Regions from separate parts of the Homo sapiens genome. Here region 1 is linked to region 2. The links come from fine-mapping of genetic effects on gene expression. A gene starts in region 2. The other region holds a variant in brackets. All regions are shown on one strand. Distances are between the middles of the regions. Region 1 overlaps HK2 (hexokinase 2). Region 2 holds the start of HK2 (hexokinase 2).

Region 1 (4,382 bases), 41 kb after region 2:
TCAGAGGAGATATGGGTTTTGCACACATTCAGCTAGTTACGTGCTGAGCCTGAAGTGCATGCCCTTAATCTCTATGCTGTTCGACCTCTCTGCTCACCACCCTGTGTCATGTATCCTTAGCTGTTTGACCACATTGCCGAATGCCTGGCTAACTTCATGGATAAGCTACAAATCAAAGACAAGAAGCTCCCACTGGGTTTTACCTTCTCGTTCCCCTGCCACCAGACTAAACTAGACGAGGTAAGATGGGCTCCTCAGACACTTGTTGCTTCACTCTTGGGGCTGGGAGGGCTGAGAGGGACTTCTGAGCCACCTGCTGTGGTGGTGGTGGTAGCACTGGAGGATTGTGGAGATGAAGTTCTGCCTTTCTGGGTGACTGTGTATGTCGATGGGGGGGCTGGTGAAGAAATCTGGGGGGTTGGGAGTGCCCTTTATCACCCTCTCTCCCACACACATTGCACAGTATCCTTATCCCCTCCACAGAAACAGGAATGAGAAATCAGGAACTCCCCAGTCTAAAGTGTTATGATAAAGACCCTTGGAAGAAAGATACTTGGAGAGTTAATGATGTAAGGACACAAGTACAGTCATGTATTGCATAACAATGGGGATATGTTCTGAGAAATGCTTTATTAGGTGATTTCACTTATGTATAAACATCATAGAGTGCACTTACACAAACCTAGATGGTATAGACTACTACACACCTAGGCTGTATGGGACAGCCTGTTAACTCCTAGGCCACAAATCTGTATAGCATGTTACTGTACTGAATGCTATAGGCAATTGTAACACAGTGATATCTGTGTATCTAACTAGGCAATAGGAACTTTTCAGCTCTATTATAATCTTGTTACCACCGCAGTATACACAATCTGTCACTGACTGAAACATTGTTATGCGGCACATGACTGTGTCTTATAGTGCCAGTTGTCCTGAGTTTCTTTTTCCTAGGCTAGCCAGGAAGTAACACACAAATTCAATCATGACTTTACCCCAGTGGCAGAGGTCTCTGCTAATGACGGAGGTTTGAGGGGTGTGGTGTGAGTTTCAGTTTTAGTGGGAAATCAATATTCACTTCTTGGTCCCTTTCCAGAGTTTCCTGGTCTCATGGACCAAGGGATTCAAGTCCAGTGGAGTGGAAGGCAGAGACGTTGTGGCTCTGATCCGGAAGGCCATCCAGAGGAGAGGGGTGAGTGGGGTGGCAGGAGCTTGGGGTCTGTGGGCTTTTCTGGGTCCACCCTGAAGACTCCCTGAGTGTCCTTGACTCATCATTGTTTGCTTACGTGGAGCTTAAGGAGAGTTCTCTTTTCCCTGACACATGTACTCAATAATTTTGTATGCGATCTGCTGCTTTGGGGGTTTTTAGATTATCAAATGGATAAATAATCTTAGCCTTGGCACAAGAAAAGCTCTTTAGTTCTTAACCTGAAGAAGACTTGAATGTGATTTCCAAGTAAGAAAGTTGGAATGATGTTGACATGGGAGTGGAATGGCTCAGAGAGAGAATGAATTAAAAGTCTTATCACAGGAGGAGTTATGGGGAGGGAGGGGGGAGAGAGAGAGAAGGAGGAGGAGGAGGAGGAGGAGTGATATATAGCTGGTGTTAGGAAAGTCGCCCTCTGTGATGATGAAGGTCAGAGCCCTCCCATTTGTCTCCACAGGACTTTGATATCGACATTGTGGCTGTGGTGAATGACACAGTTGGGACCATGATGACCTGTGGTTATGATGACCACAACTGTGAGATTGGTCTCATTGTGGGTGAGTGAACACCGTGCATGAAGGGCCCGTGCTGGCCAAGGGATGGGGGTGTGGGCTGGAAAGGGAGAAGGGGCCCATGGGCTGGGTGTTCCTTTGTAGTTCATATTAGAAGATAATGGTCCAGTCACTTTGGAGAGCCGAGCAGGGACTCATGGAGTTGGGGGTGGCAGAAGATTAGACCATGTATTGTGATGCCCCCAGAGTCTGCAGTGAGAAATCCCAGCCATCCTGGCCGGGCAGTCTCGGGACAGTAGTATAAGAGGGAAGAGGGGTGGGAAGGGGCCGGAGCAGGCGTGTGCATAGCCGTCCCTTGTTTTGGCAGGCACGGGCAGCAACGCCTGCTACATGGAAGAGATGCGCCACATCGACATGGTGGAAGGCGA[T/C]GAGGGGCGGATGTGTATCAATATGGAGTGGGGGGCCTTCGGGGACGATGGCTCGCTCAACGACATTCGCACTGAGTTTGACCAGGAGATTGACATGGGCTCACTGAACCCGGGAAAGCAACTGTGAGTAGGCCCTTCCTGTGCGAGTGGGCTTGGCGGGGGCCTGGAGCTGAGTCTGGGGCTGGTCGGGGCCAGGGGGTTGTTTCTTTACAGTCTTACATCCCCAAAGCTTGCCAAGGTGGCCACTGGTCATAGGAATGTCTGTGACTATAAATTGCTGAGAGGATCTAAAACAGAGAGCAAGCGGATATACCAGATTATAGCTAATAATGTGTTTCCTTCACAGGAGTCATTTTGGAAGGTTCTATTCTGAGTGTAAGTGGGTGGCCCTGCTCTTTCTTTCCACCTTCTATTTGTAAATTGTCCATGGGAACTGTGAGCCACCTAAGGAAAGTTGTGTTGAGGTGGCCAAGATTGGGGTCTCTGAAAGCTCCTTTCATAGCTCCAACTCCATCACCACCCAGAGGACAGGCTGACAGCTGGCTGCTCATTGCTGCTCCCTGGGGTCCCAGGGCCTCCTGCTGCAGCTGCAGGCAGACCCATGGCCCCTGGAGACATTGGCTGAGGAGCTTCCTTGGCCTCCTTCACTTGGACCTTGGCCCAACTATGTCCTGGGATGGATTGGAGGAGGGGCGTCTAGCATTTTGGATCCTGAATATTGTATTCTCCAGCCTGGCCTGCCTTTGTTTTTAGTTGCTTTTATCTCTTACAAAACCTTATTTCACCCTCACAAACATTTGCCAAATGTGCGTGTGAAAGATCTTGAAACAGGGATTGCTTCAAGGTCTGAAGCAGTTGCAAAATATTTTGAGCAATACAGATCATCTCTGGTCTTGTGACTGTTGTAGAAAAGCTTTTCGTGCAGATCTCTACTTGGACAGGAAAATTGAACCCTATAAATCAAGTCAGTGGTGGGTAACCCAGGAGAGTCCTTGCTTTCGTTTTTTTTTTTTTTTTTTTGAGACAGAGTCTCTCTCTGTTGCCCAGGCTGGTGTGCAATGGCGCAATCTTGGCTCACCGCAATCTCTGCCTCCCGGGTTCAAGCGATTCTCCTACCTCAGCTTCCTGAGTAGCTGGGATTACAGGCGCCTGCCACCACGCCCAGCTAATTTTTGTATTTTTATTAGAGACAGGGTTTCACCATGCTGGCCAGACTGGTCTCGAACTCCCGACCTCAGGCGGTCCGCCCTCCTCGGCCTCCCAAAGTGCTGGGATTACAGGCGTGAGCCACCGCGCCCGGCCTGAGAGTCCTTGCTTTGTCAAAGCATGGTTTATTTATCTAAGTCACAAGCTTGTTTCACATGTTGAAATGAGTCCTTTACTTGAAATTTCTGAGGATCATACTGGTTGTGTCTGCCATGGCTGATGAGAGGTTTATGAGCTGAAAAGTCACTCAGTGCCTGCCTCCATGAATGAGGCACACCCAAGTCATTCCGAGGAACTAAAGGCCCTTTCAAATGTCAAAAGACAAATTTGCCAGCCAGACCATGACAGCACACCCCCGGCTTATCCTTTGACACCCACCAAATTGTCATCCATGGTAGCCCTGAAGTCACTACAGACAATTTTTGTCCCCTCTAATATATTTCCAAGTAAGTATCTTCCAAATGTTGACTGGAACAAAGTGTTTTTAAAAACTAGAATAAAAACTTAGCAACACGGAGTTCCTTACTGTTGAAGCCAGGCTCCCATCCACGCTGGTTTCCTTCTCCTGAAGCTCTGCCTGTGTGGGTGCACTAACATTTAAAATGCGCGCTGTCATCTTCACAATTTTGCCAGCTCTCAGTTAGCCCTGATGCTGCTGTACTCGGCCTTGGGTCTTGAGCAGGCTGCTTCCTGGAGGCCTGGGTTTCCTCTCGGAAAGGTAACCTTGGAATCCCTTCCACATCTCAGTCCTGGGCCTCCTCCTCGCTGGGGCTCATCCTAGTTAGTGGCAGCAGGCCCATGTGCCTCCTCTAAGACACAGGTTCTTTCTCAAACACCCAGAAATGGGCCTTTTGTCAAAAAGAATTATCACCAGGGCTTGGTTTCCTCTCAGTTCTAGTCAGAAAGACCAATTATGAAAGAAAACAGTGCCACCTAGTGTTAAAATTAAATCACCGGACCGCACTGCTGGTTTGGGGGCCGTCCCCTGCCTTTCTAAAACATCTTGTCACCTGCCTGCTTAGAAGCCTG
Region 2 (4,382 bases):
AAAAATCTTCCCAGGCTAAGTCCAAATTTTGGGGCCTGCCTGCCCTGCATCATGAGGAGGTATCTGAGTGGAACGTCAATGAGGAGGAAGAATGAGTTGGAGACAGGCCTGGAGAAGAATATTCTAGATAGAAGGAAAAGGAAGAGCAAAGACCCTTGGGTGAGAAAGAGTTTGTATTTTTGAGGAAAGCATGCTAGTGTGAATGCCAAGCAGTATTCTGTGGGAAGATCTCAGGAGGTGTCTAAGGGCATGGAGATAAGTGGTCAGATGCACGGTCTGTTTTATAGGTGGAATTAACTGCTTGCTGATGGATTGACTGGCTGTGAGGGTGAGTGGCAAGAAGGAATCGAAGACGAGTTAGGGTGGATGGCGATGCCATTTGCTGAGACAACTGGGAAAGAAAAAGATTTGGGAAAAAAAGTTGAGTTCAGCTTTGGACATGTTAAGTGTGATATGCTAGTCACTTCAGTGGAGATGACAAATGGCAAGCTGGAGAAATAAGCCTGCAACTCCAGGAGAGGACCTCGCTGTAGATTTACTATGGTGAGTCATCAGCATGCATATGATATAACAGTCATGGGGCTAGGAAGTTAGTTTCTCCTCAGGGAGTTTGAAACTGTAACTAGTTCAGAGAAGAGGGTGGAGGGCAGCCCCGAATACCCCAGCATTTACCAATAGAGCAAACAGGGACTCAGGAGCCTGGGGAGTGAGGTTAGCCAGAAACCCTCAGAGTGGAGCACTGGTGCTCTTACTGAGAGAGGAAGGTGTGTCCAGATGGAGGATGTGATTAACTGTCCTCAACATCCCTGAGAGAAGGAGTAAGACAAGGGCAGGGAAGAGAAGAGAATGCAAGATTTGGCAACATGTAGGTCATTATGATGACTATGACAAAAGCAGTTTGAGCTCAATTCTGTGTGGAGTATAGGGAAGGAGGGTTGAGGACGTGCATTTAGAAGGGTACATAGTTCTCAAGAAGTTTTGCTGAGCACATCTGTAATCCCAGCTATTTGGGACGCTGAAGTGGGAGGACTGCTTGAGCCCAGGAGTTCAAGACCAGCCTGGGCAACATATCGAGTCCCTGCTTTAAAAAAAAAAAAAAGGAAGTTTTGCTGAGAGGCTAGATGGATTATGATTTTTGTTTATTTTTCCTGTTTATCCATATATTATTTTTCAACAATGAGTATTGATTACTTATATAATAATTTTAAGGCTGTACACATTGCAGACAGCACCCCACTGTTTGAAAAACTCCTCCTCAGTAGAACATGGCAGACCTTCATCTTCCTTCCCTGAACCTTTTCCAACCTTAGGCTTGCCATTCTCCACCAGTGCTAATGTCATGTCTCTTGAAATCTGTATTGAAGTCAGTATTTCATTCTTGCCAGTTTCCACTGTGTGTTTAAATTTGGAGTCTGGTGTCTAGCATTAGCTGGGGTTGGAGCTTCCACTCCTCTCAGCATTGGTAAGCCTCCTCACCCACCCCATCCCATGTCCAAGATCACCCAGTTACACACTTACCATCTACCCAGTTCATTCACATCATCAGTCCCAGAGCTGCAGAGATGCTCTTTTTCTACCTCCTACTTCTCTGGCTCTTAGAGAGGCAGCATGGGATAATGGGGCAAGCGAATAGGGCCTTAAAGTAGAGGGACAAGGGTTCTCTTCCCTATCTGCCACTTATTAGCTATGTGACCTCGTGTAAGTCTCTTTTCTTTTTGAGACAGGGTCTCCCTCTGTCACCTAGGCTGGAGTACAGTGGTATGATCATAGCTCACTGCAGCCTCGAACTCCTGGGCTCAAGCTATCCTTCCACCTTAGCCTTCTGAGCAGCAGGGACTACAGGCACATGCCACCATGTCCGGCTGATTTATTTATTTTTATTTGGGAAGATGGGGGTCTCACTATGTCGCCCAGGCTGGTCATGAACTCCTGGTCTCAAGCAACCCTCCAACCTTGGACTCCCAAAGTGCTGGGATTACAGGTGTGAGCCCTGGCCTTGCCTCAATTTCCTCATCTGTAAAACGGGGTTAGTGAAACTCACATCCTATCAGTGGTTTTGAGGATGGGCCGACTCTTGTATTGCCTGCTCTAGTACAATCAGCAGCTAAGGCGGCTCACTTTCCGGCCGTGCTACAATAGGTAAGAACTAGGATGCTTTAGACGTGTGACTGGGCAGTGGGAGCCCCTCACATGATCCCGAGATGCCAGACAGTGTCTCTCCGCACAGGGCGTGTGCTGGTCCAGAGGCCCGTTTTTCCAGTCGCCCCACACCCCGGGTCCGCGATCACGCTCCCCCCACCCATAGCCGAGCCTGACGCGGCGGTGGCTCATGCGCCTTTCCGTCCCAGCCTTTAGCCACGGACCACACGTCCCATCTCAGGCGCCCCGCCCCTCCCCCGCCCCCCGCCCCCGGCGCGCCTCCCCAGGCTGCCGGCTCCGGTGTCTGAGCGGCCGCGCCCGCGAGCCGTGAGCGATGATTGGCTGCGCCACGGCGGCGGGCGGTCCGTGGGCGCACACACCCTCCCCGCGCAGCCAATGGGCGTGCGCACGTCACTGATCCGGAGGCCCGCGGGCCGGCAGCCCCTCAATAAGCCACATTGTTGCATGAAACTCCGGCGCAGGAGTCCCGGGCTGCCGCTGGCAACATCGTGTCACCCAGCTAAGAAAATCCGCGGGCCCGAGCCACGCGCCTGTGAATCGGAGAGGTCCCACTGCCCGAGTGGAGCCGGGCTGAGATTCTTCTCAAGTTGAGCCTCAGTGATCCTGTGGCCGAAGTTAGCGCCTTGACGTGGGACAACCGGACACGTCGCCAGGAGAGAACTGAGGCGCCTTCTAGCAGTTGTGACGCCAAAATCACGTCTCCGGAGACCCGCGCCCTCCGCCAGCCGGGCGCACCCTCGCCGGTAGCCTTCTTTGTGCGCCGTCCGGACTCCCAGCTCCCGGCCCGGCAGCCGAGCCCCAGCACAAAGCAGTCGGACCGCGCCGCCCGCCTCCCCTCTCGCGTCTCCGCCTCGGTTTCCCAACTCTGCGCCGTCGGGCCGCGGCAGGATGATTGCCTCGCATCTGCTTGCCTACTTCTTCACGGAGCTCAACCATGACCAAGTGCAGAAGGTAAGTCAGCGCGGGCGGGGCGGCAGGCTGGGCTCTGGCAAAGTGGTCTGGCCTCCATCAGTCTCTTCCTCGACCCTGCGGGGACCCGCTTCCTCCCTACTCCGGGCCTGGGAGCGGAAAAAGTTTGGGCAGCCGGGACACTCCTGGGCGCCAGGAGCCACGTCCGCTAAGCACAGCCGGCGAGTGCGCGCGGGCGGGGAGCCGAGGTCGCGCTCCGCCGGGCGCCCTCCCTCCCTGAGCTCCGGCACGCGCTCACGCTCTCTCCCCCAGTCCCTTTTTCCCTGTTACTGGAGGGGCGGGTCACCCCGCAGGTAGTCAGGGATTGCTGCGCCCACGTGGGAGGGAGCCCCCTTCTGCAGCGCGAGTTCCGGCGAGAGCACGTGGAGAGAATCGTGGCTGCGGGAGGCTGCTCCGCTGCCGCGTGGGGCCGCCGGGGGCCGTCCGCGCTCGCGGACCGCGTGTAGGAGACGAGCGGTTCCCTTCTCCTTCCCCGCGGCCCTGCGGGGGTGGGCTCGAGGAGAAGCTGACCCGGGAAGGAGTAGGAAAGGGGCAGAGGAACTCCGCCCGCCGCGCCCCCTCCCCGGAACTGTGGCGCCCGGAACTGAGGCTCGGCGAGGGGCGTCCCCCATTAACCCCCGCCCCTCCAAATCAGCCTCGGGACCGCCCAGCCTCGTGTCCTCAGGATCTGCCTCTGAGTAAGGGGAGGACTTTGGTTGTTACTTTCTGGTTTGCCCTAAAAGTTACTCGGAGAGGCCAACGCGCCGCGTTCCTGGATTACTTGAGATTCTTGAGATTTATGTCCTTCCGAAAACGAGCTTTTTTTTCCTTAAGCCTCGACCTGTCTGTTCCCACCTGGCTCCGCAGCTCCCTATGGCTGAGCGCTCACCGCGGCCGGGTCATTTACATAAGAAAGAGCCTCAGGCCAAGCCGGGAAGCTCTCATTCCCCGCCTCGGGGTATGGGGGTGGGGATGGGGCCGGGGCCGGGGACGGGCAGGGCCAGGGGCGCGCTCAGAATTGAGTTTCTGAAATGCCCGGGATTAGGGGATTGGCTCCTGGCCCGGGCCTGGGCTACGATTTGAGGTAGGGGACAAGTTGGGAGGGGATTAGCTGGAGGGAGGTTGTTTTAAGAGCTGTGAGGCAACGGAGCGTTGCTCAGTTACATACTTGGAATTTCAATATCTGATGGGAACACATTTTTGGGAAAATGTCTTGCCATTACCGTTCTGTGCGACAACCTGCTCATATTCCCATTCTGGCGGTCCCGAGGGCA

Evidence for each region. PIP is the estimated chance that this variant, and not a neighbour inherited with it, causes the effect.
Region 1: its variant is fine-mapped to the expression of HK2 in fibroblasts (GTEx, PIP above 0.99).

What each region holds. Positions count from the first base shown.
Region 1 is chr2:74,872,180-74,876,561 of GRCh38, forward strand. It overlaps HK2 (hexokinase 2), which reads left to right. Exons shown (of 18, transcript NM_000189.5): 4 at 121-240; 5 at 1,097-1,192; 6 at 1,665-1,764; 7 at 2,087-2,270. Among named protein-coding and RNA genes, the nearest start is that of LINC01291, 35 kb to the right of the region's middle. The variant T/C (reference allele first, on the strand shown) is at 2,148.
Region 2 is chr2:74,831,533-74,835,914 of GRCh38, forward strand. It overlaps HK2 (hexokinase 2), which reads left to right and starts at 2,595. Exons shown (of 18, transcript NM_000189.5): 1 at 2,595-3,111. The coding sequence starts at 3,049. It overlaps HK2-DT (HK2 divergent transcript), which reads right to left and starts at 2,455. Exons shown (of 1, transcript NR_185897.1): 1 at 1,123-2,455. RefSeq lists silencers at 2,087-2,156, 2,337-2,566, 3,487-3,736 and enhancers at 3,313-4,189, 3,967-4,036.